7 separate regions of the Homo sapiens genome follow, and regions 2, 3, 4, 5, 6 and 7 are each reported to be linked to region 1. Evidence: microRNA targets listed by miRTarBase, many of them from high-throughput screens and not tested one by one. Region 1 holds a microRNA gene; each other region holds the end of a gene's coding sequence.

Region 1 (4,065 bases):
GATGCTGCTGGCATCTGGTGTGTGGAGGCCCAGGATCCTGCTAAATATCTTATAATGTGTATGGCAGCCCTACACCCCAACACCTAAATACGCAAACCAAAATCCCAGTGGTACTGAGGCTGAGAAACCCTGCTCTCTGGAGACATTTTTACATGTCTGTGATTTACTAACAAAAATCCCACTGCTCGTATTTGTAGAAATGATTCCGTCGAACTGTTCTATCAGTCCTTGGTCAGAACAAGGATAAAGAAGGAAGTTGGTGGGGCGTGGTGGCTCAAGCCTGTAATCCCAGCACTTTGGGAGGCTGAGGTGGGTGGATCACTTGAGGTCAGGAGTTTGAGACCAGCCTGGGCCAACATGGCAAAACCCCGTTTCTACTAAAAATACAAAAATTAGCTGTGCCTGGTGGCATGCACCTGTGTTCCCAGCTACTCGGGAGGCTGAGGCAGGAGAATTGCTCGAACCCAGGGTTGCAGGGGTGGTGGAGGTTGCAGTGAGCCCAGATCGTGCCACCACACTCCAGCCTGGGCGATAGAGCAAGATTCTGTCTCCAAAAAAAAAGAGGAAGTCATCATTTCCCTAGTTGGATGTTGTTTTCCAGATCGGAACTTCCATGTTGTAACTCCAGTCTCTTTTCTCCTTCTGACCTTGCAGGTTCATCTGCAGAAGCCAGCGGACGCCTCTGTTCAACTTGTGGGTTACCTGGCTCATGAGACCTTGCCGGCGAGGCTCGGCGCTTGAACGTCTGTGACCCAGCCCTCACCGTCCCGGTACTTGTATGTGTTGGTGGGAGTTTGGAGCTCGTTGGAGCTATCGTTTCCGTGGAAATTTTGAGCCATTTCGAATCACTTAAAGGAGTGGACATTGCTAGCAATGAGCTCCCAAAGCCATCCAGGTAAGGCCGGGTCATTTCTTCTCTGGGCACACAGCGGGGCTTTCTTTGCCCAAAGTAGAAGTTCTTGTGACTGCAGCTTGCTTTCTGGATTTGAGACTTTTGTTTTTCTTGATAGTGGTCACTGTTGGTTTTTGACAGCACAAAGTGCAAAATGGATGGTTTATTCTTCCTCTTGGTGAAAGAAGAATGATAAAACCTGGGAGGATGTGGAGTCAAGTCTGCGACCCCGGTTTGCAGGCTGACTTGAGAGGCACACAGGTTTCCTCGATGCTTTTTGACAAGGGTGATGTTGAAAGGTCAGGTTGTGATGTGGAGAGCTGGTTTCTTGCCCAGTGTCTTTGTTGTTTCATGAGGGGTTGTGTGAGGGGTGGGAGTGCTCCTCCAACTGGGCGTCTGGGCTGTCTGGGAAGAAGCTCATGTTCCCACTGAGGTCGTGGCCACAGTTGCTCCTGGTGTTTGAGGGCCTCTGTGAGGGGCTGCACTAAGCATTTTACAAGCATTTAGTACAGCCCCAGATCATCTCAGGCCTGGAGGGAAGAAGTAATTTGCCTGAGGTCACAGAGCTGGTAGGTGGGGGACCCACATGATTGGGAAGCAAGCTTGTCCTGCTCTGAGCTTCAGAAGCATGTCATGGGCCCATCCATTTACGACTTCACACTTTCTGTCCTTGGAAAGTCACCGAGAGCGTGCACCATAATGAAACCTCGAGGCCTGCCGCCGACCTGCCTGAGTGTGGGGCTCCTGCAGAGCCAGTCCTGTGCTGCCCAGCTTCCTGCCACTTCCAGCGCACCGTGGCCTTCAAGGGCACTTAGCCATCGACTTCTGTCTTGCGTCCACATGAGAGAGAAGACGGTGGCCACTGGACAGACGCTTGGACAGGCACCTGAGGCTCTGTTAGCCTTGGCTCTGGGTCCTGCTCCTTAGAGCAGAGGCAGAGAGGCTCAGGGTCTGTCTGGGTCACTCTCTTTGAGATTGCCGGAACGCTTACACACATCTTTCCCTGGGTGGAATCGTCTTTGTCTGAAAATTCCAGAGGGCAAGATTCCAGGTTTTTTTAGATATGAAAGTTTTATTGAGTTAAATTGTTTATGTATTGACTGATGTAAAGAAATGGTTTATGATCATTCCAAGACAAAATTAAGCGCTATGGCTCAAAGTGTCTAAATAGACATTGAATGGAGCTGGCTCTCTCCCTCCTACACTGGGCTGCTGTTGGGTGAGAGTGTATCTTTTTTCTGTGTCTAAACATAGTGTGATGTGTGTGAGCATTTTCATAGAGTATAATTCTATAGGCAGGGCCCTGTGTTTTACATTCTGTCCATTTTAATGTGTTATAAGCATCTTTTGGTATCAGTATGTGTGCAAATATAACTTGCTCTTTTGATACCTTGCGAATGGATATTTATGTGGTTGTAGCAGTGTTTATACCAATTCCAAATTGGCATCAAACAATTATTATACATATATTTTGTAAACTTCTAAGTATCACTACTAGACAAATTCCAGGAAGTGGAAGCTGGGTCAGTGAGCCCGTGCACTTAAAACATCATTAGGTTGACTGTCAAATTGCTCCAGAAGCCTCGTTCCAACTGATCTTCCTAATTCCAGTGTAAGAGGATGCATATTTTTCATTTGTGCTGTACCAGCACTGGGTAGGTTCAGTCTCTCTCATTTTTGTCAGTGTGCTATGGGAAAATTATTGTTTGAGTACACTTGATTATTTTAATGGGGGTGCATATTTTTGTATGACTTGGTGTACACATAATCATAATTTGTACATGCTCTGCAGGCATTTGAAGAGAAAGTATGCTCTTAGGATTTTGTTTCAGTCTAAAGACGTCTGTATGTATGTATCAATATTGTATTTAAAGTTCTCGGCCGGGCGCAGAGGCCCACAGCTGTAATCCCAGCACTTCGGAAGGTCAGGGTGGGCAGATCACAAGGTCAAGAGATTGAGACCATTCTGACCAACATAGTGAAACCCCATCTCTACTAAAAATACAAAAATTAGCTGGGCGTGGTGGCGTGTGCCTGTAGTCCCAGCTACCCAGGAGGCTCAGGCAGGATAATCGCTTGAACCTGGGAGGCAGAGGTTGCAGTGAGCTGAGATTGCGCCACTGTACTTCAGCCTGGCGACAGAGCAAGACTCCGTCTCAAAAAAAAAAGTTCTCTCATTTATATATATTTTATTTATATATAGGAGGATATGTATCCTTTCTTTATATGTTGTTTTAATTATATATTAACTCAGTTGAGTTATTTAAATCAGTATAGCTTTACTTATTTTTTTCTGTCTGCTCGATTTCTTGGAAAAGTGTATTTTTCTACTGTGATTATAGTCTTATAATATTCTTTTTACATTAATAACCATTTTTTGCTTTATATAGTTCAGTGTTTTTTTTTAAAGCTTAAAAATTAATGACTGTTCTTTTGGTAGATCAGGTCTCTTATCAAAATATAATATATTTCTCTTTGTTTAATGTTTCTTTGACCGAGAGCTTATAGTGTTTCATGAGGTATTTCTACCCTTGGTTTCTTTTGGCTAACAAATATTTCTCCATCCGCTTGTCTCTAACCTTTTCAGGCCGGGTTCTTTGAGGCTCAGCTCTGGAAACCGCGGGGTGCTGGGTTTGTTTGGCCTTTTCTGTGGGAATTTCAGCCGCTGCGGTTCAGTTTGATCACCGGCCTGCCCGGGCCTGTCCTGCCCATGTGAGTTGGGTTGTGTGCGCCTTATTGCCACCCACGACCTCTCCATTCTCTCTCTCAGTGGGTTGGAGGCTGAAGACAGGCCGCACTGGTGAGGGCAGGGCTGCCCCTTGGCCCAGCCCATTCTCTGCTCTCCATCTGTGCAGGGGGTACAGCTGAGGTGGTTTGCCTGGGGCCTGAAGTCTGCTGGCTGCCTCCTCTGCCCTGTCCGCTGTCATCTTTCCCTGCCGTGTCTGCCCTTCCGCCCGGAGGTCCCTTGGGAGGCAGGACCCCTTGTGCCCAACACGTGCATACCACCACCTGCACACACTGGCTGGTGGCCCAGCGGCCTCTGCCCACGTCTCAGGCGGGGGATGGGGCTTGCCCAGAACCGTGCCCTCCCTCCTGGGCGAGGCCCACTCGCTTGTGTGCCTTCCCAAGCAGCTCCATCCCCAGAGATCTCTAGTTTCGGGAAGTTCCTCTGT
Region 2 (4,065 bases), not on the chromosome of region 1:
GAACGGCAAGGATGCAAGTGAAGACAGTGCGCAGAGCGGGAGCGAGGGGGGCAGCGGCCATGCCAGCGCCCACTACATGTACCGGCAGGAGGGCTACGAGACGGTGTCCTACGGGGACAACTTGTATGTGTGCATTCCCTGCGCCAAGGGCTTCCCCAGCTCTGAGCAGCTCAATGCGCACGTGGAGACTCACACGGAGGAAGAGCTGTTCATCAAGGAAGAGGGGGCCTACGAGACAGGCAGTGGGGGTGCCGAGGAGGAGGCCGAGGACCTGTCAGCACCCAGTGCGGCCTACACGGCTGAGCCCCGGCCCTTCAAGTGTTCGGTCTGCGAGAAGACCTACAAGGACCCAGCCACGCTGCGGCAGCACGAGAAGACGCACTGGCTGACACGGCCCTTCCCCTGCAACATCTGTGGCAAAATGTTCACGCAGCGCGGCACCATGACGCGTCACATGCGGAGCCACCTGGGCCTGAAGCCCTTCGCCTGCGATGAGTGTGGCATGCGCTTCACCCGTCAGTACCGCCTCACGGAGCACATGCGTGTGCACTCGGGCGAGAAACCTTACGAGTGCCAGCTGTGCGGGGGCAAGTTCACCCAGCAGCGCAACCTCATCAGCCACCTGCGCATGCACACCTCCCCCTCCTAGAAGCCAAAGACCCGCGGGCGCCCTCTGCCACCTTGCTCCCCGGGAACCCATGGAAGGAGAAGCGAGGTGATGCAGCAGCAGGGGCAAGACCCTGGGTCCAGTGGAGGCTCCGGGTGGCCCCTCTGGCCCCCACTGCCCACACCCAGAGCTTTAATGGACAGTCCGTACCAAGCAGAGCCGAGAGGAGGGAAGCCAGGGGTCCCAGCCCGTCTACCTCCCCATCCCACCCAGGCCCCCAGCTCCCCGCGGGGGCCACCGCAGGGCCTGTGGGCTGGGTCACGTGGGTCTCGCTGGGACCTGGTCCCTTTGTTGCAGGCGGCTTGGAGAAAGGGCAGTGGGACGCTGGCCACGGCCAGGGTGGTGTCGGGAGCAGGCCTCACCCCGCTGGCCGTGTCTGTGTGTGTGCACGTGTGCTTGTGTCTGTGCGGGCGCGTGCAGCCCTGGTTCTGCAGGGAACAGGTGCTGGGGGTGCAGATCCCTCCCTCCTTGAGCCAGGGTGGCACTGTTCACTGGCGCTGGGACAGTCAGGGTGACCCCACCGCCTACCTCTCTACATCTAAAGAGCCCTCTGGGCCTGTGTTGCTGTTATTCCTACTGATCTGTTCCTCTGTTTTTCTTTTTGATTTTTGTTTTTTAAACCAAAACAGACAATAGCTTATTTTCTTTCCGCCCCCTCCGGGGCTGAGCCTGGGTCTGAAGACTGAATGTAACAGGGGCCGCTGGCACTCCTGCGCGTCCCCCGGCTCTGGCGCTGCAGGGGTGTCGGCGCGCCACCTCTCCAGGCCCCAGAAGCCCTTCTTGCCCAAAGGCTTCCCTGGTCCCTGAGCCCTGCCTCGGCTGCCTCAGGGGAGAGTGCTTTTCCTGTAGTTTCCAAGGAATATTCTTTGTTTAGAGGTACTTGTTTTTTATTAAGAGAAAAACCAGTGTAACGTTTATGTGACTGTTTGAACTGGAAGGTCTGGGGTTCCGGGGGGTGGGGGGAGGCTAGACTCAATGCCGGGGCCGTCGGTACTCTTGTTTTCATTTGTGTGTGCGTGCGTGTGTGTGTGTGTATGTGCGTATGTGTGTGTCTATGTGTGGTGTGTGCCGTATGCATGGGCAGATGTTTCGCTTTCCCTCCTTCCTCGCTGAACAAGGTGGAGACTTCTGACCTTTTGCTACCTCTTGAATTCATGACAACGATATGTTGGTGACTGGCAGTGGAAGCCCTTGACACTCTTGTTTTCCTTCGCTTAGCACCTAGGAAGTCGTGTGCAGGAGCCAGCAGGGCGCCAAGTGGCCCAGTGCCTGCAGCTCACCTGTGGGTTTTCCCTTTGAGCCTTTGGCCACATCCACCTCGAGGGGACCCTGGCACCCCGGGCACACAAACCTCTGTGGTATAGGTGAGGGGTGTGAGGCCCCAGCCTGGAGCCAGGCACTGGGTGCTGACAGGGGAACCATGAGGAGGGTGGCAGGTCTTTGCAGCTCCCGGCCAGGGTGAGGCGGAAGTGAGCCCTCATCCTGCCACTCCTATCCTCCATTCCTGCAAGAGTTTTAAGCTTGAGAGAGCTGACCACAGGGCCCCCCGGGGAACAGGGATGGCACTTCCCTGAGCAGTCCTGGCCCCCGGCCACTGTCTCGGGGCCCACCTCTCGCCCCTCATCTTGGTAATTAGCCAGCCTCAGATACTTCTGTGGGCCCTGAAGTGGGCTCTCAAGGTCAGACCAAGGTTGCTGATCTCAGTCCCACTGTCTTCAGCCAGCTGAAGCTGTGGGGCTGGGCTGGCAGCCTTTATTGTCATCTTGCTTCACCATTTTTTTTTCTCTCTCTTTTCATTCTATTTTAAGTTTAGACCAAAAAAATACAGAGTCATCCCCTACCCCCACCCCTCTAGAGACCCTCCAGCTAAAAACAGAGCCTGAGTTCAGGGACCCAAGTGGTGAGCGGCGTCTTTTGGGGGTGAGGGAGCTTGGGTAGATGAGGCTCCTGGCTGAGCCCTCCCTGTGGTGATCCCAGCCTAAGATGGCCCCTCTTCCCTCCTGGTGGGAGACAGAGGACTGGACCCTGGGTCTCAGGTTCCAGCAAGTCAGGCTAGGGACCTGGGGGGAGGAGACCCATGGACTTCACCCATACTCAGTGAGGGGGCTCCTGCCGTCCTGACGCCACCCCGCCCCATCAGCACTTAAGCCACATGACACAAAGTCTGTACCGCACGGGAAATGTTCACGCGCCTGGCCGTGTGCATGGCCTCCCGGGCTGTGGGCAGCCGCATCTGTGAGGTGACTCGTGAAAGTAGGTGATTCCTTTGCAGAACTTCAGGGACTGGGAGCAGAGGCCCCTCACTCAACGACGTTTGTGCGACATAGTATTGTATCCACCTTAGTATTGTATCGAGCCTTTTCTGTGTTTTAATGAGAAAGCAGAACACTAGTTTCCTATTTAAGACTTTAAGGGTTTGTGGGGCGGGGCGGGATTAACACAACATTTGGCTTTGTTTTCTTTTTCCTTTGATTTCCACATCAGGTGTGTGCGAGTGTGTGTGTGTGGAGATGTTAAGAGCCTCACAAGGAAACTGGGTTATTGGAGGCCAAGGCGGCTTACAGTTCTCTGCGTTCGTCACTTAATTCCTGAATGTTTCAGAGAAACAGGAATCAGAAAATAGCAGATATCATGTAGGAAAGAGAGGATAAACAAAGAAAAAAGAAAAAAAAATAAGCTCATACCCAAATTCACAAAGCCTATTTTTTAAACCAAAGCACATTTTGAATGAGTATGGAACCTCCATGGGCTCAGAAAAAAGATGCTAATATATTTATCTCATTGTTTACATAAGCTTTTACAGTTTCAGACCTCAGCAGCTGTAAGGCCAGTCCAGGGAACCCTCCCCTGCTGCTGGAAACCCTTCTGAGTTGGCCCTGGAGTGGCTCACGGGCAGAGAAGGGTAGCCCTGGGGCTGGGGGAGGGATTGGAAGCCTCCCTGGAGTCACCTGAGCCCTCGTCCCCATTCCCAGGGCCCCTCCAAGCCCAGCTGGCACCAAAGAGCTTGGGCCCGTGCTGACCAGCCCCCAAGGCCCTCTGGCCGGACCATGCTGGTCCTGACCAGCTAGCCTACGCGGGGATGGCCGTCAGTTCTGGCCACAGGACCCGAGTCTGGGCTTGGGTCCCCCTGCTGCTCTGCCCGTGACCCTTGGGGATGGGTTGATGCGAGGGTCCCACTCAAGCCAAAAAGCCGGGACCTTTGCGCAGCTCTGTCGACTCTGGTGGGTCCCCACTCCTGGGGCCCCCTAACCCCACCCCAGGCAGCGGAAGGGGCTGACTGGGTCTGGTCCTTACCAACATAGACGGTGCAAACACTCTTAACAGTGTTGTTTTTGTATCAATATGTTTGTGCAGTGATGAATGTATTTATTTCTCAGACTTGGGGCGAGTGAGCGGGT
Region 3 (4,065 bases), not on the chromosome of region 1:
TCTTCCAGGTGGGTGAGACTAAGAATATAGCTTATGAACACATTCTGAGTCACTTGCATGAAGTCAGGCATAAAGGTGAGCCTTAAAAATCTATAGCAGGAAGTAAGATTAGACTTTCAAAAACTATCCTTAAAAGCCTTGGGATGAAGCAATTACATAGAGCCAAGGAATTTTGCTTCTGGGAGCCCTATCTAGGTAAGCTAGGGCACACTGAAAGGAAGATGAGTCCCAGTCTGTTCTCCCCAGATCAGAAGACCTCAGTGCCTCCCTTCAACCTAAGAGAGCTGCTCCCCAAACAGCTGGGGCAGTACTTCCGCTACAATGGCTCGCTCACAACTCCCCCTTGCTACCAGAGTGTGCTCTGGACAGTTTTTTATAGAAGGTCCCAGATTTCAATGGAACAGGTAAGTGGTGGAGAAACGAGGTGAGGTGAGACACAGTTGTAACTTCAGACCCCTTCCCACTCCCCAAAGTAACACCTCTCCCACGCTTCTGCTCCTCAGCTGGAAAAGCTTCAGGGGACATTGTTCTCCACAGAAGAGGAGCCCTCTAAGCTTCTGGTACAGAACTACCGAGCCCTTCAGCCTCTCAATCAGCGCATGGTCTTTGCTTCTTTCATCCAAGGTGATTCTGCACGGCTCAGAAGAGATGGGAAACTGAGGGGGACACAATGGCAGGAACTAGGGAGCCAATGGGAAGAAAAGGCTAAAAGGGGAGGGGGTTTCTGGGACTTGCTTGGACTGGGAACCAACCCCCACCCCAGGGTGCCCCCGGGGGATTCTCCCAGGCACAGCAGCAGAGAGTGCTGCTCCCAGCTGGGATGGGGATCTGAAGTCCCACTGACCCATTTTCTTCTCTTACAGCAGGATCCTCGTATACCACAGGTAAGCCAGCCTTATAAGATAATGCGGGGAGGGGAGGTGTCCTCACCGAGTGGGGGAAAGGCTCAAAATCTATGTTAGTCCTAGGCTGACACCTTTTACCTTTATCTCCCCCAGGTGAAATGCTGAGTCTAGGTGTAGGAATCTTGGTTGGCTGTCTCTGCCTTCTCCTGGCTGTTTATTTCATTGCTAGAAAGATTCGGTGAGGCCCTACTTTCCATTCCTCCAGTCCCTTCTTCTTTTTTTTTTTTTTTTTGGTAGGTGGGAGACGGAGTCTTGCTCTGTTACTCAGTCTGGAGTGCAGTGGTGTGCAATCTCAGCTCACTGCAACCTCTGCCTTCTGGGTTCAAGCAATTCTCCTGCCTCAGCCTCCCGAGTAGCTGGGACTACAGGCACGCACCATCACACCCAGCTAATTTTTGTACTTTTAGTAGAGACAAGGTTTCACCATATTGGCCAGGCTGGTCTCAAACTCCTGACCTCAGGCAATTCGCCTGCCTCAGCCTCCCAAAGTACTGGGATTATAGGCATGAGCCACCCGCTTTTTGAGACAGGTTCTCACTGTTGTCGAGGCTGGAGTGCATGGCTTTATCACAGCTCACTGCAACCTCCACCTCCCGGGCTCAAGTGGTCCTCCCACCTCAGCCTCCTGAGTAGGTGGGACTACAGGCATGTGCCACCATGCCCAGATAATTTTTGTATTTTTAGCAGAGACGGGTTTTCACTACATTGCCCAGGCTGGTCTCCAACTCCTGACCTCAAGTGATCCGCCCGCCTCAGCCTCCCAAAGTGCTGGGATTATAGGTGTGAAACACCTTGCCCAGCCCTCTTTTCTGTTAAAAAGCATTCTCCTATTTCACCTCTAATCTGCTTCACTTAGATAGCAGTCATTCTCATGAGCCATTCCCCTTTCCAGGAAGAAGAGGCTGGAAAACCGAAAGAGTGTGGTCTTCACCTCAGCACAAGCCACGACTGAGGCATAAATTCCTTCTCAGATACCATGGATGTGGATGACTTCCCTTCATGCCTATCAGGAAGCCTCTAAAATGGGGTGTAGGATCTGGCCAGAAACACTGTAGGAGTAGTAAGCAGATGTCCTCCTTCCCCTGGACATCTCCTAGAGAGGAATGGACCCAGGCTGTCATTCCAGGAAGAACTGCAGAGCCTTCAGCCTCTCCAAACATGTAGGAGGAAATGAGGAAATCGCTGTGTTGTTAATGCAGAGAACAAACTCTGTTTAGTTGCAGGGGAAGTTTGGGATATACCCCAAAGTCCTCTACCCCCTCACTTTTATGGCCCTTTCCCTAGATATACTGCGGGATCTCTCCTTAGGATAAAGAGTTGCTGTTGAAGTTGTATATTTTTGATCAATATATTTGGAAATTAAAGTTTCTGACTTTAATTCTGGCCTATCCTTTGAGGCTCTTGAGGGTGGGCAAGTTCCTGAATCCCTCAGGTGGTAAAGATGGGCAAAGGATGGGGAAAAGAAGCATGGGTGATTAACTCCTTTTATCCCACCCCTGGAAGGAAAGATAAGCTTCTGGGAAGACACTTAACCCAAAGTTTCAGACATGTTAAACCACTAGCCCAGATTTCTGCCCTTGCACCAAGGCTATGCTTGGAAATCAGTGGTTGCCAGGTTAGGAAAGTGGCTGGATGAGAGATCTGAGGACAGAAATCTCAATTAACATGCTATCCCCTCCCTTAAAAGCCAAGTTCCCCCACAATTACAAATTCTTTTTTATTAGTCAAAATCACAATCACCTTGATTAAAAGGATGGGACACTCCACCCTCAGCAGAAAATGATACAGTTTATAGAAAACCTCCCCGCCCCTCCCACACCCCAATTAAAAACTACAAAAAAATCTCCCCTCCTTCCCTACGATGTCATGGTAGTCTGACTCCTCCAGTGGCACTGCAGCTCTGGAGTGGCCAGCTCACCACAGCACCCTCCACTTCACCTTGGGGAGAGGAGGGATGCTGGTGGTTAAGGAGGTTAAAACCATTAGTTCCAGTAATGCCAGTTCCCAAACATGCACTTCCTTCCTTTCCCCCAAGGTCTGGGACCAAGGAGAAAGGGACCGAAATGAGCCCAGCCATGAGGAGCAACTCGAGGAGAGAAAATATAGCCCAAGGAGGTTAGAAGAGTTCCAATATACCTCCTCCCTCCCCCCACCTCAAAAAAGAAAAAAAGGCAGTTTAGGGTATTTATCACACCAAAAATGGTTCCCCCTCAGGCCTGAGAAAAAGACCAAGATGTCCAGTCTTGAGGGAGTACTGAGAAACTCAGAGCTCATCTATCCTTGAGCCTCCATTAATTTCATCTCCAGGGCAATGGCTAAACTAGGTCCCTTTTCTTGGCAACCTGCACTGTCCAGAACTGGAGATGGAGAAATACAGGGCGAGGACATCAGGAGGGCACCCCAGGCCCAGGGGTCCCCCCTAGGTTCCCTCAGTCCTCGGGTGGGATGCGCAGGGCAGAATACACCATCACCCGACTGTCCTCCTGCCGTCGGCCTGCAGAGGGGAAGGGAGGTGAGTCTTGGGCAGGGTGAGAGCAGAGCACTGACACAGGGGGAGTCCTGGACACAACAAGGGGGTCCCCAGGTGGTGGGGATAAGTGCAGATTCAAACCCACCAGTCACTGACTGGCTGAACCCAGGCTGCTCCTGGTAAAGCTTAGAGACTAACGGTCACAAAAGGACAAAGCAAAACCCTGGAGGTAGTGGGGTAGACCGACGAGAAGGAGACAGAGAATGTGGGCAATGGACCCGGGCTGGGGCTGGGCTCAGTCATGGGCAGTGGACAGGCAGGTGGGATCTGTCAGGCGATCAGTCCAGGTAGTCAGTCCTTACACAAGAGGCTGCGCTGAATACTTCGGAGGGACCCTCCAGCTGTGATGAAGGCCCAGAGCCCCATGGAAACAGTGACTGCATAGATGGGCAGCAGGCTGGCCTCATACCAGGGGTTCAGGAATGTCTAGGAAGGAGGGTAAGAGTAGGAAAGAGATTAGATTCTCCCTCGACCTAATCCCCATATTCTCTCTGTACCTTTCTGACTCCCAGATATCTCTCTCAAATTCTCCAGTCTTTCCCTTCAGAGCACCAACATCTTGTGGTTAAGGGGACTTTTGATTTTCAGCTCCTCAGAAACTCAAAGGTTTCTGCCGCTCCTGCTCACCTC
Region 4 (4,065 bases), not on the chromosome of region 1:
CCGGATGTGAGTGTGGGGGAAGTGGTGGTTGGCATACACAGCCCTCCTACCCCTAAGGTCCTTCTGTGCACACTTTCCCTTACAGCATAGAATTCCGCAGGGCCGTCCAGGTGCTCAGACTGTCTTGAGGAGGCGTGTGGAGCCAGATTCTCAGTGGGCAAGTGGGAGGGCCACAAGTGGGAGGGCCACCGGAACAACAGAGGCCACAGGACACCTCGTAGAGGGCGCGTCCAGGTCTTTCTGTCAGTGGGCAAGTGGGAGGGCCACCGGAACAACAGGGGCCACAGGACACCTTGTAGAGGGCGCATCCAGGTCTTTCTGTCACTAGACTTCAGAGTCGCAAGACCTGAGTTCAAATCCTGGTTCTGCCATGGAGTAATCACAGAGAACTTGGTTAATCAGTCTCTTGGGAATTATCAAACCTTCACAGACAGGATCAAAAATAGGAGGGTCAACACTCTGGAAGACAAAGTGTTGTGTGCTTATAAGGGATTGTGACTGTTTGCTGGTGGGCATCCCGAGGGCCAGGCCCTGGGTGGAGGTCCTGGTGGCAGCAGGCAGTGAGTGGGCAGCCTGAGTTTGGGTGGGCAGAGCAGGGACGGTCACCTGGCTCTTGGTGACTCTGAGGGTGGACCACAGGCCGTCCGTCTGTTGACACTGGGATTATATGACGGCCTCCCTTTCCTAAGGTGGAATCCCCATCCTGACACCCTTCCCTTCTCCACAGATGGAGGAGATGAGACGGCCCGAAGTTCTCTCTGACCCCCACCTCGACTCGGCCTCTGCCAGCTGCCTTCCCTGCCAGAGAACAAAGGCTGAGATGGCAGTGCACACACCCTCCCCACCAGTGGGGACCTGAGAATGCGTGTGGCCTGCTGTCCTCGATAGACCGGAATGGGGTTTTCCCACAGATCCCCGCCTGTGGCACACCCCAGAGCCAGAAATCGAAGGTCACAGGAAGTTGTCACTGAACTTGGCCCGTGTCTGCTACTCTGTACCTTGCTGGTACAGACAGGGGTGGTGGGCAGCCAGGCTCTATGAGTGGGCCCCTAGTGTCAGCTCTGTACAGGGTCAGATCCCAGGTTCTATGACCAAATAAGTAACTTAAGTTTTGTGTGTTGGGTTCTAATTCCTTGTCCTAGAATCCCCATGACTCAATCAAGGACTGTGCTAAATGAGATTGTCCAGCCCCCGCCCTTGCACTGGACTACGCCAAAACCACACTGACCAGGCACTTGCCTTCCCTCTCTTCCCCCGTGTTGGTAAGAGAGAGGCCAGTTGTGATAGTGGCCAAGGAGAATCTAGGGCTGTATTGTTGTCCACTGCAGTAGGCACCGGCCACATGTGACTGCTGGCATGAAATAGAAGTGCAGTTCCTCCATCGCACTGGGTAAGGCCTCCAGTATTGGACAGCACACAGAAAGGTTTTCATCATCAAGAGAGTTCTGCTGGTCAGCCCTGCTCCAGGGGATGCCTCTGCCTTCGCATAGCACACTGCTTGAGGCCCTGCCAGGCACCAAGCACTGCCCTGGGCCCATGGGATAGAGCGGGGAAGGTGATGGCTCTTCCAGAGGATTCCCTCAGATGGGGAGGCAGCAGTATGAGCTCTGAGCAGAAGTGGGTATTGTTGATACAGAGGAAGTTCTTTGCCACGAGAACTTTCAAGCAGTGAAAGGAATTCCCATCAGGACTCAGACCCCAGGCCGAGATCTTGCCCTGAATGTACCCTGCCTCTGCTTTCTCCTGCATCCCATGCTAAGCAGGGTCATGGTCTGAACTACTCAGATTGGATTTCCAAACCATCCTTGTATAAACTGCTCAGAACTAGCATCTTGCTCCTTCTTACCCTCCTCCACCCTTGTCTGTGCTTTTGGGTTTTGCGCGTCACCTAGCTGTGGTGCTTGGCCTCCACCTTGCACATATCTGCAGTGAGGCTACATAAGAAGCGAACAAAACTATCAGCCACTGAGCTCCTTGGTGCCAGCTGTTTGTCTGCTGTGCTCTCAGACTGCACCAGGCCTGGAAGGTTCTCAAGCTCCAAAACTTTTGATGAGGAAACAACATAAGAAATGATTAGCCCATGCCCTCACATCTAGTAAGAGAAAGCTGGGATTAAACCAGGCCCTGCCCCAAAGCTTATTGTGCACTTTGTACCACATCCCTCCGTCCAGAGCTCAAGCTAGTTTGACAGTTCATGGGCCACCACGTCTGTCCATGACAGCTATTTCTGTATTTTTCTGGTGTAAGAGCCTTTTAGTCTTAGAGCACCAGTCTCCCTGTTCCCCTACCCCGCCCCACTGGGGAAGGGGTGATGGCAGCATCCTATTGCCTAGCTGCCTGTTTTCTATCTCCCCACCCATGTAGACTCTGTCCTGGTGGAAGCTAGGAGGTGGGTGCCAGCCAGCCCATCTGAGGCTGTCTGCAGCATAAAGCAGACTTTAGGGTGCTGGATGACCTGCAGTTCTTTAATGAGGGACCTAGACCCAGCCCAGATTTGGAGGAGGAGGGAGTCTAGCAGCTGTGGGCAGTGGCTGAGCCTGGCATGGCCTGGCCTGAGATGCCTCCAGGTGAATGGGGCCCCTATGTAGCCTTGGCCCCAGCCCAGGGGTGGGGTGCCCATACCACTCTGCCAGACCCCGGGCCCGCAGGGTGCTGGTGGTATGGTAGGTCTCATGGCTCTGGTTTCTGAGGGCCTGGGGTTGAAGCTGAAAGTAGGTGAGGGGTGTCCTGGGGCCCTCCCCCTTAACAGGGAAATAGGTATTCCAGATCCTCCAGCCTCCGCATCTCCTCCGGCCCGATGGACACGATCTTTTGCCGGGGTTCCTTGCGCCGCACGGTGATCTGGATGGGGTAGTTCTCAGGAAAGCTGCTGAAGTCAGTGGCCAGGGTTGCAAACTGAAGTGAAACAAGAAAACCCTTCAGAGTTCCTTCCCAGATCTGAACCTGGCTCTCTCTCTGTCTCTATCACCCCTTTTTTTTCTGTCTGCTGACTCAGACCTTAAACAGCCTTATCCAACCTAGCCATTGACGCAGGAAACAGGTGCAAAGATGCATGACTCAAGCCTGTACCTCCTCATTATGGGATATTTCCAACCAAAGGGCTGTCTGTACTCAGGCCTCTATACCCCCATACCCCTACCCCATACCCAGGCTGTTCCCTTCTTCGTCCCCCTTTAGCCTCTTGTCTTCCCTATTTCTTTCAATGCCCTTGACTTCCCAGCCTACTCACAATCATGGGCACTGAATTGCAGAGTCTAAAAACCAATGGCTTTGGAAGGGGAACATTATAGTGATGTTGAAAAATACATTCGTTTGCATTCCTAGTGGGCCCCAGAGTGGCTTAATCCTTAAACCTCCCAGAAGCATGCATTCTGGAATTGATGCTTCTTGACCCAGGCAGAAGGAAAGCTAGCCAGATGAGTCATGTGGGCATAGGGGTGTTCCCAACCTCCAAAGCCCTGGTTCCCTGGCTTTGGACTTCTCTCCACCCCCAAGGCCCCTCTTTTCCCAGGGCTCACTTTGTAGGGCTTGCACCACTTCCCCACCCCAGCTGTGTTGGCTGCACGGACACTGAGGCAGTAACACGTGTTAGGCTTTAGCTCCATCAGCTTGACAGTAGTGCCCAAAATCTTGTTGAAGATCCATGGACGATTCTTTGCCTCGGGCAACTCATTCTCCTGTGTCTTGGCCACCTCCTGTAACAGGAGCTGGTAGAAACTGACCGGCTGCTTGCCCAAGGCGTAGGTCCAGGAAATCTAGGGGAAGAGAGAGCCCCGAGGCTTCCTCAGATATGTCCTGTCCTTCCTGTCCCTTCACCCTCCCAACTGGGGTCAGGACGTCCCATGCCCATCCCCTGCTCCTGCTGGGGCCCAGGCAGGTCAGATGGAAGGTGCAAGGTACTGCAGCACTGAGTGTGGAACCCCTGCCCCGAAGCATGTACTACTCTCCTGGGCAGCCCCACCCACTTTAGGGTACACCCTCATTCCATATTTCTTATACGCCAGGGGTCCTCAACCCTTGGGCCACCAACTGATAGCAGTCCATGGCCTGTTAGGAACTGGATAG
Region 5 (4,065 bases), not on the chromosome of region 1:
CTGTTCGGTGTGTGGGCGCACAATGGCGAGGTGCGCACCGCCAGGCTGCTGAGCGAGCGCGACGCAGCCAAGCAGAGGCTGGTGGTGCTGGTCAAGGACAATGGCGAGCCTCCGCGCTCGGCCACCGCCACGCTGCACGTGCTCCTGGTGGACGGCTTCTCCCAGCCCTTCCTGCCGCTCCCAGAGGCGGCCCCCGGCCAGACCCAGGCCAACTCGCTCACTGTCTACCTGGTGGTGGCGTTGGCCTCGGTGTCGTCGCTCTTCCTCTTTTCGGTGCTCCTGTTCGTGGCGGTGCGGCTGTGCAGGAGGAGCAGGGCGGCCTCGGTGGGCCGCTGCTCGATGCCTGAGGGCCCCTTTCCAGGGCGTCTGGTGGACGTAAGCGGCACCGGGACCCTGTCCCAGAGCTACCAATACGAGGTGTGTCTGACAGGAGGCTCAGAAACAAGTGAGTTCAAGTTCCTGAAGCCGATTATCCCCAACTTCTCTCCTTAGGGCACTAGGAAAGAAATAGATTAAAATTCCACCCTTCACAATAGCTTTGGATTTAATTATTGATAGGAACCCATTTGATAAATTCCTTAACTTCTTATGATTGTCTTGTTGATTAAATTGTTCATGCTCACCACCACCAATAAGGTATTTTTCTCTGATTGTTAGTTCAAATTATATTGTTAATTCCAGTTTCCCTTTTCCTCATATTTACCCCGAAGAGGTGTTGCATATAGAATCCCAATTAACAAAATATACTTTATCTTCAAAGTTGATGTCATTTAAAATTTTTCCGTCTTTATATTTTATTTACTTCCTATTCATTTTTTGCTCCATTTTTCATGTTACTTCTCAGTTTCCTAGAACTTCAAGTATTAAAATAACCTGTTGCATGTATTAGGCATATTTCCTATGTTACATTTCTTTTGTCTATTTTCCTTTCAAAATTGGTATTTTTGTTGGGCTCAATTTTCATTATAATACTTTTCTTAAAGTTTCTTTCTTTCTTTTCTTTTCTTTCTTTTTTTTTTTTTCCTTTTTGAGACAGGGTCTTACTCTTGTCACCCAGGCTGGAGTGCAGTGGTACAATCTTGGCTCACTGCAACCTCTGCCTCCTGGGCCCAACGGATCCTTCCACCTCAGCCTCCCAAGTAGCTTGGACTATAGGTGCATGCCACCATGCCTGGCTAATCTTTTGCAGCGATGGGATTTTGCCAAGTTGCCCAGGCTGATCTTGAACTCCTGGGCTCAAGCCATCCTCCCTCCTCAGCCTCCCAAAATTCTGGGATTACAGGCATAAGCCAATGTGCCCATCCAAAGTTTTATTTATTTATTTTTTTGAGATGGAGTCTCGTAAAGTTACCTTTAAAAAAAAAGTTCTATTTTCCCTGTATTGGTATCTCCTTAAATAAAATAAAATATTCCTATTGTAAGTGATATGAGAAATCTTTAACCAGCCTTATCTAAAAATAAAAAGAGAAGCCATTGTAAGACATTCAGTATGTGTAAATGTGTTTGTGTTTGTAGACAAAAGGCAAAGGTATTATGTAAAAATATTTAATAATTTATTCTTTCTATTACTGAATTAAAAAATCAGAGGTCCCTGTTATATTTTTAATGGCTAACAACTCAATCTCATTAAGTTGGAAAAAAAACTTATCAAAGAGACATTTACATGGTTTGGCTTTTATATTCATCATAGTATACATTGGCGGTATCTAGCCCTTTCTCTGTAAAATATCCCTATGTTTAATCTGTATTTCTTGCTTATTATATGTAAAGTTGAGCTTCTTTCTAGATATTAGGCCTTTGAATAAAATTCTATGTGAGTCAGATTTAATAATTTGTTTTCACTTTCAATAGTGTTAGGATAGGTGTTAGTTTGATCTGTTCTTTACCTCCGCTTATTTGGTTCAGAGAAATTAGGGCCTACTAGATTTCCACTAAAAGGGACTTGAAAATAAAGGTCAGTCCCTTCTTTAATTCTGCAAGTTACTTTAAAGCTAATCTAAGAAAAAAAAAAAACAAATTGCAAAGTATGAGTAAATTAAAGAAAACAATTTTCAAATGGCAGAGATCGAAAGGCACTGAATTTTGTTTCATGTCCTACTCACTAGTTTATTTATGCATGCCTTAATATAGCCAGCATTTAGTGAGTGGCTAATTTGCCAACCAAAGATGACTAAGACATAGTTGTTCTCAAGTAGTTCACACATTGATGAAGGGGCAAACTGGCCTGAAACAAGAAGCAATAATATTTATAGAGTAAACATAGTTGTATGCGTAAGTTTTAGAGAAGCACAATGGAAAGACAGCCTAATGCTTGGTTCTGGACTACAGAGCGGTGATTCTAGTTAGGCAATCTGAGATCTTGAAGACATTTGTTGAAGAAGATGTGAAACAAGTTTTTTTTATTGTTGTTAATTTTTGGTGTTCCTATGCCCAAAGCTTTTGAGACAGTGAAATTGATTATTTTGGTGGTTCCAGAAGGCACCCACAATTTTCCCTTTGTTTGCGTAAGAGTTGTGTCAGAGGCGAAAGGCCTAACACAGCTAAATCTAACACAGAGTTGAACAGGGTTACTGCTAGAAACATTTTTTCAACTGTTCAATTTTTATCTTTTCTCATGAAGCAATGAAGAATTTTTAAATAAACACAAAAATTGGGCACAGCCATTTGACTGTGTTGGAAGCCACAAGGTGGCGCTGCAGACTGAAGAGACGGAGGAACAAAATTGACCAGAATGCTACGGAAGTCCTTGACAAAAAGGAAACACTGAGACAGATGGGCTGAGAAGAAGAGCTGTCGAGTCCCTGATTGGGAAAGGAAAAATTAAAAACCCTAGATCTCTGGTACACATAAGTCTGGGTTTGCGATTGCTATTTGTGCTGGGGCAGTGTGATTGAGACTGACATTGAGGAAAGAAGCAGCTATGAAGACCAGGGGGTTCAGCTTTCCAAGACAAAGGCAAGTCCTGTTTCTTTTTCTTTTCTGGGGAGTGTCCTTGGCAGGTTCTGGGTTTGGACGTTATTCGGTGACTGAGGAAACAGAGAAAGGATCCTTTGTGGTCAATCTGGCAAAGGATCTGGGACTAGCAGAGGGGGAGCTGGCTGCAAGGGGAACCAGGGTGGTTTCCGATGATAACAAACAATACCTGCTCCTGGATTCACATACCGGGAATTTGCTCACAAATGAGAAACTGGACCGAGAGAAGCTGTGTGGCCCTAAAGAGCCCTGTATGCTGTATTTCCAAATTTTAATGGATGATCCCTTTCAGATTTACCGGGCTGAGCTGAGAGTCAGGGATATAAATGATCACTCGCCAGTGTTTCGGCACAAAGAGATGGTCTTAAAAATATCAGAAAATACAGCTGAAGGGACAGCATTTAGACTAGAAAGAGCACAGGATCCAGATGAAGGTCATAACAGTATCCAAAACTACACGATCAGCTCCAACTCTTTTTTCCATATTAAAATTAGTGGCAGTGATGAAGGCATGATATATCCAGAGCTAGTGTTGGACAAAGCACTGGATCGGGAGGAGCAGGAAGAGCTCAGCTTAACCCTCACAGCGCTGGATGGTGGGTCTCCATCCAGGTCTGGGACCTCCACTATACGCATTGTGGTCTTGGATGTCAATGACAATGTCCCACAGTTTGCCCAGGCTCTGTATGAGACCCAGGCTCCAGAAAACAGTCCAGTAGGGTCCCTTATTGTTAAAGTGTCTGCAGGAGATGCAGACTCAGGAGTCAATGCAGAAGTATCCTATTCATTTTTTGATGCTTCTGAAGATATTTTAACAACGTTTCAAATCAATCCTTTTTCTGGGGAAATCTTTCTCAGAGAATTGCTTGATTATGAGTTAGTAAATTCTTACAAAATAAATATACAGGCAATGGACGGCGGAGGCCTTTCTGCAAGATGTACAGTTTTGATAAAAGTATTAGATTCCAATGACAATCCTCCTGAACTGATCATATCATCACTTTCCAACTCTGTTGCTGAAAACTCTCCTGGGATAGTATTGGCTGTTTTTAAGATTAAAGACAGAGACTCCGGAGAAAATGGAAAGACAAT
Region 6 (4,065 bases), not on the chromosome of region 1:
GATTACCTGAGACCAGGGGTTCAAGGCCACAGTAAGCTATAATCACACCACTGCACTCCAGCCTGGGTGACACAGCAAGACCCTGTCTTCAAAATAATAGCTAGAACAGGTAATCTCTCAAAAGCACAAAGTACCACTGAAACCTATTTAAAATTTCTCACATTTCTAAAGTGTGCAATGTACAAGGTCCTTATGCATATGATTATTTGATCATTATAACAGCCCTATGAGGCAGGGATAGATAGGGTTACCATGTACCTTGGGGAGAGGTGTGTTGAGGAAAGAGTATGGGCAAATATTTATATAAGCTCTCAGAAGAAGTTGGATTAACCAGCTATTCCCACTCTCTTCCAGCACAACATGCCTTTCTGGAGGATCACAAACCATGGAGACCTAGTATCCCTTCACCAGGCTTTAGAGCTTGATTTTCTCTAAGAACTGGAATGAGGAGCCTTCCCCTTGAGCTCCTTTTCACTCCTGAAGGGAGCTGGAGACTGGAACCAACTGAGAACTTTCTCTGTCTGTCTCTCTCTGTGTCTCTGTCTCTATCTCTCTCTCTTTCTCTCTTTCTCTCTCTCCCTCTCTCCCTCCCTCCCTTCCTCTCTCCCTCCCTCTCTGCCTCTCTCTCTCTCTCTCTCTCTGTCTTTATCCATGGAATGCTGGCGAGAACACAATCAGAACCAACAGCTGCAATTTTTGCTAAGAGTGAGCTGCAGCCCCGTGTTCATCTCCATACAGAAGCAGGGACAGTTGGATAGAGAGAACAATGGACTCACTGCAGCTACAGTGCTTTTAATTTTTCTGTGTTTTGTTTTTGTTTTTTTGTTTTCAAAAAATGAAAAAGAAAAGGAAATTCCTGGGGCAGAGTTGCACTCTTAGTCCATGACCAGATTGAGAATTACTGATAACTTGTGGTGATCAGATAAATGCAGCAGACTTTTATGATAACATCTCTTGCAGTCTTAGAGTCTCCTTAGCTTAGAATCTCACTTATTTCCAGCGAATGTGTATGTTATTTTTATAGGTAAGGGTCTGATCTTTGACGCAGGTTTCCCCCACTTTCTTTTTCTAGCAAGAAGGGGTGTTTAAAGTCTTGAAAATAGTAATTGAAATATCTAAAATACCTCCCTGTGGCAGTAGCACCTCTATAGCTGCTCCAGTGGTCTGCTCTCTAGGATGATACCTTTCCTGTTCTTCTATCTCCTAGCTGGTGAACTGTGGGGCACTGGACACTGAGTAACTTAAACTTTGGCATTTCCCATCTAGAAGCCTTAGTCTTCTTTCCAGTCCCTTTTCCCTTTAGTCAAATGGCACAACCCTAAAAACTCCTTCAGCTTGACTGTCATTCAGACTGTATCACAGGAGGCTTAGCTTCCAAACTGGAGAGAAGGAACTAAAGTGTCTTATGAATTTCAGCTTCTTGGCTCTTGAGACCGAAAGGTTCTACCTATTCCCCCTGCAGAGAAGCACCCATTTCCCATCAGATGCTCGTCCCTGCAGCTTCTTCCTTCTTGGTCATCATAATGCTAGGTTCTTACCCCTTTCCTGCCCTCTGCACCTCATGTCCACCTCCAGGCAGCTCTGGCCAGTCCCCGGGTATTAGACCCAAGAATTCAAATCAAATCTAAAAACATGCTTATAACTACATTTTGGCCAAAACTGCCAATGTATTTGACTTCCTTTGTGGAAGCCCTAAGCCATATGAAGGATGTCCCAGGTATGTATTTACCCAGATCTCTGCCTGAAACTGAAGAGCAGATTGCTGTATTTAAATTTTCCCATGGAAAACCCTGCTTCTCAAATCCCATTCTAAAGTAGGAAACCAGAAAGACTTTGCTGATTGTGGGGGGAAGGGAGAAACAGACAGGTTTTCACATTGTTGCCAAGGCTGGTCTTGAACACCTGGCCTCAAGCGATCCTCCCACCTCGGCCTCTCAAAGTGTTGGGATTGTAGGCATGAGCCACTGCACCCAGCCAGACTTTCCTGATTTAAATGAGAGTACTGCATCATTCCCTACTTCATGGCCCAAAACTTAATCCTGGGCCAAATGCAGGAGCATCTCTCGACCTCTGGGCAGATTGGTGGGTGCCCAGGCACTAGTCACAGCCTTCCAGCCCAGCCATGATTGTTGGATGCCCCATCCCTCCAAGAGCAATTTGGGCATCTACTCAGGCAGGATAAAATTCCCTAGAGCTGAGGAAGTTCAGCCTCTCCCAGGCTACACAGAGAGAGATGATACAAGCACCTCAGATTGAGATGCAGGATTGGTCCGCAGAAGGAGGCATTGTTGACCAACCCCAGCTATAATTGCTTGTCACCAGAGATTCTGCATACCCATTTCCAGAGATGTTGCAGCACAAAGAGGCAAGACTCCTTCCAATGCCAGGCCACCCAGATAGCAAGAGAGAGAGGCTGGTATACACATTCCTTCAGAACTCATTGAAAAGCGCTCATAACTCGTGATTTTAAGGAGTAAGTTTTTGCTGAGTAGCTGAAGTCAGTGCTCCTTTACTTAGCTGCCTCTTTGGCCTTGTTTCCTGTGGGGTTGGGAGGAGGGAGATGTAGTGTGAGGTAGGCCTTCCCTTGGTCTGTATTCAGCATAGTTGCCTAGATGCTGCTCTGCCTTGTTTGATGGTTGATCTTAGGAAGCTCTAGGTTTTACTCTGAGGCCTCAAACCCTCCCCCTATGCAGTATAGCTGTTGGGTTTTTGTCCTGGACAAAGGCCACGGCTGTTGTGCTGCGCTTCAGGTTTGTGAGGCTGCGGAGTGGTACCCCCACCATGCACGCAAGCACACACACACAGATACTTCCCTCTCCACCCTTTTGGGAGCTCTTTATTTTAGAATGTAACTTGAACTCACTTTTATCATTGGCCTTTTTCCTCTTACTCTGACTTCCTAGCTTAGCTCTTTCCAAAAGGAACTTGAACTTGGCCAAGAGAGGTAAGGAGGCTGAGCAGAGCAGTCTTTGCTCATTCCTGGTTGTTGCCACCCTCATTTAAATGGAAGAGAGAAAACAGGAGCTTCTTGGCTGTTTGCCAAAATGAATTGTCCAGGGAACACAGTGCTCTCTGTAATTACCCTGCCTTTTTCTCCACCCCAACACAAAAATCTGGAAAGGAAAATAAGTGGGTAGGATTAAGAGCTGTTAGAAGCTGAGGACCAAAGGACACTGTGGGTCCATTCATCAAGGGGGAGACCCTCTTCATTAGAGTCCTCATGAAATTAGCCAAATGATGAGTCCTTCCCTAGCTGGGCATGGTGGGTTCTCTTTTTTTTTTTTTTTTTTTTTTTGTTGTTGTTGTTGAGATGGAGTCTCGCTCTGTCACCCAGGCTGGAGTACAGTGGCATGATCTCGGCTCACTGCAACCTCCGCCTCCCAGGTTCAAGCGATTCTCCTACCTCAGCCTCCTGATTAGCTGAGATTACAGGCGCCCACCACCACGCCTGGCTAATTTTTGTATTTTTAGTAGAGATGGGGTTTCACCATGTTGACCAGGCTGTTCTCAAACTCCTGACCTCAGGTGATCTGCTCACCTTGGCCTCCCAAAGTGCTGGGATTACAGGCATGAGCCACCATGCCTGGCCAGGCACTGTGGGTTCTACAGGATGGGTCTGTAATGTCACGGTGAGGGCTCTCTCTAGTAGTAGATCTGGAGTGAGGTGTGTCTTGGGTTGAGGAGGTGGCTTGACTTTCGAATGTAAAACTGACTGTGCCTTAGCATCACCCTGTCCAGTGCCCCTGGGGCAGCTGGTAGTGTCCAGAAGAATGGACACCTGCTCCAGATTTAGATGCCCATCTGGGCTTTTGTTTGATTTGCGGCGTTCCTGTCTTCTGTAAAGCTAGTGAGTTGTCCCAAGAGACTGATGCCACAGCTTGTTCGCAGTTTACACAAACTCAGCTTTAAAATTCCAAATAGAATCTGACTTGCAAACTCTAGCTGCAGCATGTGGAGCTTCTAGATGTTTACTACCTTGAATGGTTGTCAGTGTCACTGAACCACAGGGGAGAGGAGTATGGGGTAGAGCAATGGTCTGGGCCAAGGAATGGTGAGCTTAGGGTC
Region 7 (4,065 bases), not on the chromosome of region 1:
GATGGATGGATGAGTAGATAGATAGATAGATAGATAGATAGATAGATAGATAGATAGATAGATAGATAGATAGATAGAGATAGGTAGATAGACAGATAGATAGATATTTCTCTTTTAGGTCTTCACTCAAAAGTTAACTTCAGAAGGGCCTTCCCTGGCTCCCCATCCCTTTTTTCATCTTTTTCACCTTGGAATTTACTTTCTTACATATTATATATTTTACTTACATATCTTTTTCATTGTCTTCCTTATTAGAAATTAGCTCTCTGAAGGCAGGAATTCTTGTCTGTTTGGTTCACTGCTGTATCTCCATTGCTTAGATTAGAACAAAGCCTGGCACACAGTAGGCACTTAATACAAAAAATTTAAATAAAATACACATCTTCAGATGCACATACACACACATAAACAGAAATCTCTAGATGGTCCTAATAACAATCAAATATTAATAAAGCATAAATTTTCACTAATCCTAAGAGATCAGGTCAATATATCACAAGACAATGGGTTGTACAGTTGAAAAGAAACAAAATTTAGTACTTCATTGTGAGGAGAAACATCAGATTGTAAAATACACTGAAGCTAAACACATGGGTACAAAAGATTTTATCAACATTACAAGTGAAGTTTAACTATATAAACAGAGAATGAACCAGTAGCTTAGGTTTACGTCACTCTCGAGGATGAAATCAGGTGCCATACATAGATCAAAAATCAATTAGTAGCTGTGCACAGTGACTCATCCCTATAATCTCAGCACTTTGGGAAGCCGAGATGGGCAAATCACTTCAGGCCAAGAGTTGGAGACCAGCCTGGGCAACTCGCGAAACCCCATCTCTACAGAAAAACGCGAAACTTAGCCAGGTGTGGTAGAGCACACCTGTAGTCCCAGCTACTCAGGAGGCTGAGGTGGGAGGGTCGCTTGAGCCTGGGAAGTTGAGGCTGCAGTGAGCCATGATTGTGTCACCGCATTCCAGCCTGGATAACAGAGTGAGACCCTGTCTCAAAAAAAATAAATAAATAAAATAAAAATCAATTAGTGAGTAACTCAGACTCTTCTTACTGATCTGAGTCATTCTTCTTCAAGTTTGGTAAAGTTTACTGTAACCTTCTGAAACTTTCTGAAATAAATTATTACTCAGTGCTTGGAAATTATAAAAATAAATATCCTTATACCTCCAGGAAATATAATAAAAAATAAAGAAATGATGACATGAATTAAGCTTATAATATTAATATGTTTCAGATTAGATGTAACATAAGTTTGGAAATATTTTATAATCATATTTGTTTCTATTCAAGGTTTGAAGTACTGAGTCACTAAATCTGTATTTTAAGCTGTTTAAAGGGAATTTGAATATTTATGAAAAATAATTTTCAGATTTTATTAGAAATAAGTATAAGTTGAATATTTCACTCTATGCACACATATATTCACTCTATGCACACATATAAATCCTTCATTCTTTCCTCTTTCATTTGTTCTGATATGTTTTTACAGATGCTCTTCAGGCAATACCCAATATTCTTACTGGTTCTCACTATTCAAGATGGCCCAGCTGCCATATCACCAGTTTATTTCCCTATATCCACTCAGATAAAAAAGAAACGTATTGCCCTACACCTTCATCTTCCTCATTACTCCCAATAATGGAAATGATTTAGTCTCTAAAAATTTTAGGCATTAACTGCTTTACTTTTACCATTTGTTAAAAATGACTCATTCTTTCTGCCAGCAATATCTTTGTTTGATATCTCTAGCTGCAAAGAAGTTATCCATACACTTCTTAAACCAAATTTATTTATTTATTTATTTATTTATTTTTTTTTTTTTTTTTTTTTTGAGAAGGAGTTTCGCTCTTGTTGCCCAGGCTGGAGTACAATGGCGCGATCTTCGCTCACTGTAACCTCCACTTCCCAGGTTCAAGTGATTCTCCTGCCTCACCCTCCTGAGTAGCTGGGATTACAAGCACGCACCACCACACCCGGCTAATTTTGTATTTTTAGTAGAGACGGGGTTTCTCCATGTTGGTCAGGCTGGTCTCGAACTCCTGACCTCAGGTGATCTGCCCACCTCGGCCTCCCAAAGTGCTCGGATTACAGGCGTGAGCCACCGCACTGGGTCTTAAACCAAATTTAGAGCCCACCCACAAAAGACCTCATTTACAATTTAATTGTTATTATATTCTGCCACAGAATATGTTTAGACCCATACTGAAAGAAGAAAATCAAGTAATTCCTTGAAGATGAAGAGCCATTCATTAAACAAATGAAAGTATTATTCTCTTAGCTTTCCATTCTCTCTTTACAGGCAAATGGTGAGTCACTGTGACAAATGATTTTAACTCCTTAAGGGGAAGCCTGTTAAAGAATTTTACTTGGTGAATTTTAAAATATTCAGCCATAATGTGAAAAAAACTAAGAAACACTAAAATAGTTTTATCGACAAATAAAATGTAACAATTATCTCAGTTTTATGAAGGCTGTGTATTCAACTTTCATAAACTTGTTATATCAGAAGGTTGCTCCTCAGGATAAATAATTATGCCACGTAAAAAATTAAGGCTTTCTTTTATGTATAGCAAACATAGAATGTGTGAATCAGCACTCTAATTCCATGAGGCAAAAATATAATCCAAATTAAGCAAAAAAAGGAAATTTATTGGATCACAAAAAATGAAAAAGGATGGTGATGGTGTAGCTGTCAGGAATGACTGGATCCAGGAGATCAAGCTGTATCATCATATTTCTGTCTCTCATCTCCATTTTCCTCTGTTAGATTTCTCTTTGGGAAAGCTTTCCTCATGAGTGGCAAAAAGGCTACTGGTGAGTTTTTAATCTTATTAAATCCTTGAAACTTGCAGTTCCAGAATAAAACCTCTCTTACTGCCCATAGGAATACCCGCAAAGGACTTCATTGATCCAGACAGGGCCATTTGCCAATCCCTTATCACTAGGTTGGGGGAAATAATTGGCCAGCCTGTGACCAGTCCACTGCTGTCCCTGATTAACAGTTTCATCTGAATCATATGCATTGAGGGTGGGCTAAGCCAGGTATAGAACAGATCAAAAAGTAACAGATGTGGCCAGGCGCGGTGGCTCACGCCCATAATCCCAGCACTTTGGGAGTCTGAGGCGTGTGGATCACCTAAAGTCAGGAGTTCGAGATCAGCCTGACCAATGTGGTGAAACCCCGTCTCTACTAAAAATACAAAAATTAGCCAGGTATGGTGGCAGGCACCTGTAATCCCAGCTACTCAGGAGGCTGAGGCAGGAGGATTGCTTGAACCCAGGAGGCAGAGGCTGCAGTGAGCCAAGATTACACCACTGCACTCCAGCCTGGGCAACAGAGCGAGACTCTGTCTGAAAAAAAAAAAAGTAACAGATGTCTACTACTGAGCTACTTCAAATAACGGATACTCATGAACTGAAATATGAACTACATTCAAAGAATTACTAACCAAAAAGAACTCACTAATATTTAATAAGGATTGAGTGGTAACCACATGTTTTCTTTCCTATACTTGTTATAATCAGAGCGTTTCTCTATTATGAATTCTCTGATGTCGTCTAAGGGCTGAGACACAGCTAAAATTATTCCCACATTCGTTACATTTATAAGGTTTTTCTCCAGCGTGAATTCTCTGGTGTAGTCTTAGGGACAAGATCTGATGAAAAGCCTTCCCACATTCACTACATTCATAGGGTTTCTCTCCAGTATGAATTCTTTGATGTTGATTAAGATATGAGCCACAACTGAAGGCCTTTCCACATTTGTTACATTCATAGGGTTTCTCTCCTGCATGACTTCTCTTATGGTGAATTAGAACTAAAGCATCACTGAAGGCTTTCCCACATTTACTGCATTCAAATGGTCTCTCTCCAGTGTGAATTCTATGATGTCGATTAAGTTGTGAGTCAGTCCTAAAAAACTTCCCACATTTGATGCATTCATAGGGCTTTTCTCCGGTATGAATTCTCTGATGTTGATTCAGGTGTGAGCGATAGCCAAAGGTCTTCCCACATTCACTACATTTGAAGGGTTTCTCTCCTGTGTGAATTCTT

What was found. Region 1 holds the annotated microRNA hsa-miR-2467-3p (AGCAGAGGCAGAGAGGCUCAGG, at 1,820-1,841, shown strand). A microRNA usually pairs through its seed, bases 2 to 8, with sites in the 3' UTR of a target mRNA and lowers its output. Matches are read on the target gene's strand: a 7mer-m8 pairs with bases 2 to 8, a 7mer-A1 pairs with bases 2 to 7 and ends in A, and an 8mer does both.
Region 2: miRTarBase lists HIC2 as a target of hsa-miR-2467-3p. Seed matches in the 3' UTR shown: 7mer-m8 at 671-677.
Region 3: miRTarBase lists APH1A as a target of hsa-miR-2467-3p. The part of its 3' UTR that is shown has no 7-base or 8-base seed match.
Region 4: miRTarBase lists NLE1 as a target of hsa-miR-2467-3p. Seed matches in the 3' UTR shown: 7mer-m8 at 780-786, 7mer-m8 at 1,474-1,480 and 7mer-m8 at 1,731-1,737.
Region 5: miRTarBase lists PCDHB16 as a target of hsa-miR-2467-3p. Seed matches in the 3' UTR shown: 7mer-m8 at 1,094-1,100.
Region 6: the mRNA of EYA3 is a reported target of hsa-miR-2467-3p. Seed matches in the 3' UTR shown: 8mer at 1,550-1,557.
Region 7: the mRNA of ZNF527 is a reported target of hsa-miR-2467-3p. Seed matches in the 3' UTR shown: 7mer-m8 at 3,297-3,303.

The regions. Positions count from the first base shown.
Region 1 is chr2:239,349,508-239,353,572 of GRCh38, reverse strand. It overlaps MIR2467 (microRNA 2467), which reads left to right and starts at 1,769; the gene lies at 1,769-1,849. HDAC4 (histone deacetylase 4) reads left to right here. Exons shown (of 27, transcript NM_001378414.1): 2 at 655-895. The coding sequence starts at 874. RefSeq lists a silencer at 913-1,106.
Region 2 is chr22:21,446,095-21,450,159 of GRCh38, forward strand. HIC2 (HIC ZBTB transcriptional repressor 2) reads left to right here. Exons shown (of 3, transcript NM_015094.3): 3 at 1-4,065. The coding sequence ends at 649. Among named protein-coding and RNA genes, the nearest start is that of TMEM191C, 19 kb to the right of the region's middle. RefSeq lists an enhancer at 3,272-3,825.
Region 3 is chr1:150,262,796-150,266,860 of GRCh38, forward strand. APH1A (aph-1A gamma-secretase subunit) reads right to left here. Exons shown (of 7, transcript NM_001077628.3): 6 at 3,738-3,861; 7 at 2,609-3,399. The coding sequence ends at 3,335. It overlaps CA14 (carbonic anhydrase 14), which reads left to right. Exons shown (of 11, transcript NM_012113.3): 6 at 9-75; 7 at 247-404; 8 at 504-624; 9 at 864-884; 10 at 999-1,083; 11 at 1,798-2,283. The coding sequence ends at 1,864. Among named protein-coding and RNA genes, the nearest start is that of SNORD13C, 3.1 kb to the left of the region's middle.
Region 4 is chr17:35,129,112-35,133,176 of GRCh38, reverse strand. It overlaps NLE1 (notchless homolog 1), which reads left to right. Exons shown (of 13, transcript NM_018096.5): 12 at 1-6; 13 at 728-4,065. The coding sequence ends at 740. FNDC8 (fibronectin type III domain containing 8) reads right to left here. Exons shown (of 4, transcript NM_017559.4): 3 at 3,519-3,755; 4 at 2,445-2,895. The coding sequence ends at 2,743. Among named protein-coding and RNA genes, the nearest start is that of FNDC8, 9.5 kb to the right of the region's middle.
Region 5 is chr5:141,184,399-141,188,463 of GRCh38, forward strand. It overlaps PCDHB16 (protocadherin beta 16), which reads left to right. Exons shown (of 1, transcript NM_020957.4): 1 at 1-1,828. The coding sequence ends at 492. It overlaps PCDHB9 (protocadherin beta 9), which reads left to right and starts at 2,763. Exons shown (of 1, transcript NM_019119.5): 1 at 2,763-4,065. The coding sequence starts at 2,921. It also overlaps PCDHB@.
Region 6 is chr1:27,970,836-27,974,900 of GRCh38, reverse strand. EYA3 (EYA transcriptional coactivator and phosphatase 3) reads left to right here. Exons shown (of 18, transcript NM_001990.4): 18 at 355-4,065. The coding sequence ends at 435. Among named protein-coding and RNA genes, the nearest start is that of XKR8, 13 kb to the right of the region's middle.
Region 7 is chr19:37,389,348-37,393,412 of GRCh38, reverse strand. It overlaps ZNF527 (zinc finger protein 527), which reads right to left. Exons shown (of 5, transcript NM_032453.2): 5 at 347-4,065. The coding sequence ends at 3,534. Among named protein-coding and RNA genes, the nearest start is that of ZNF527, 20 kb to the right of the region's middle.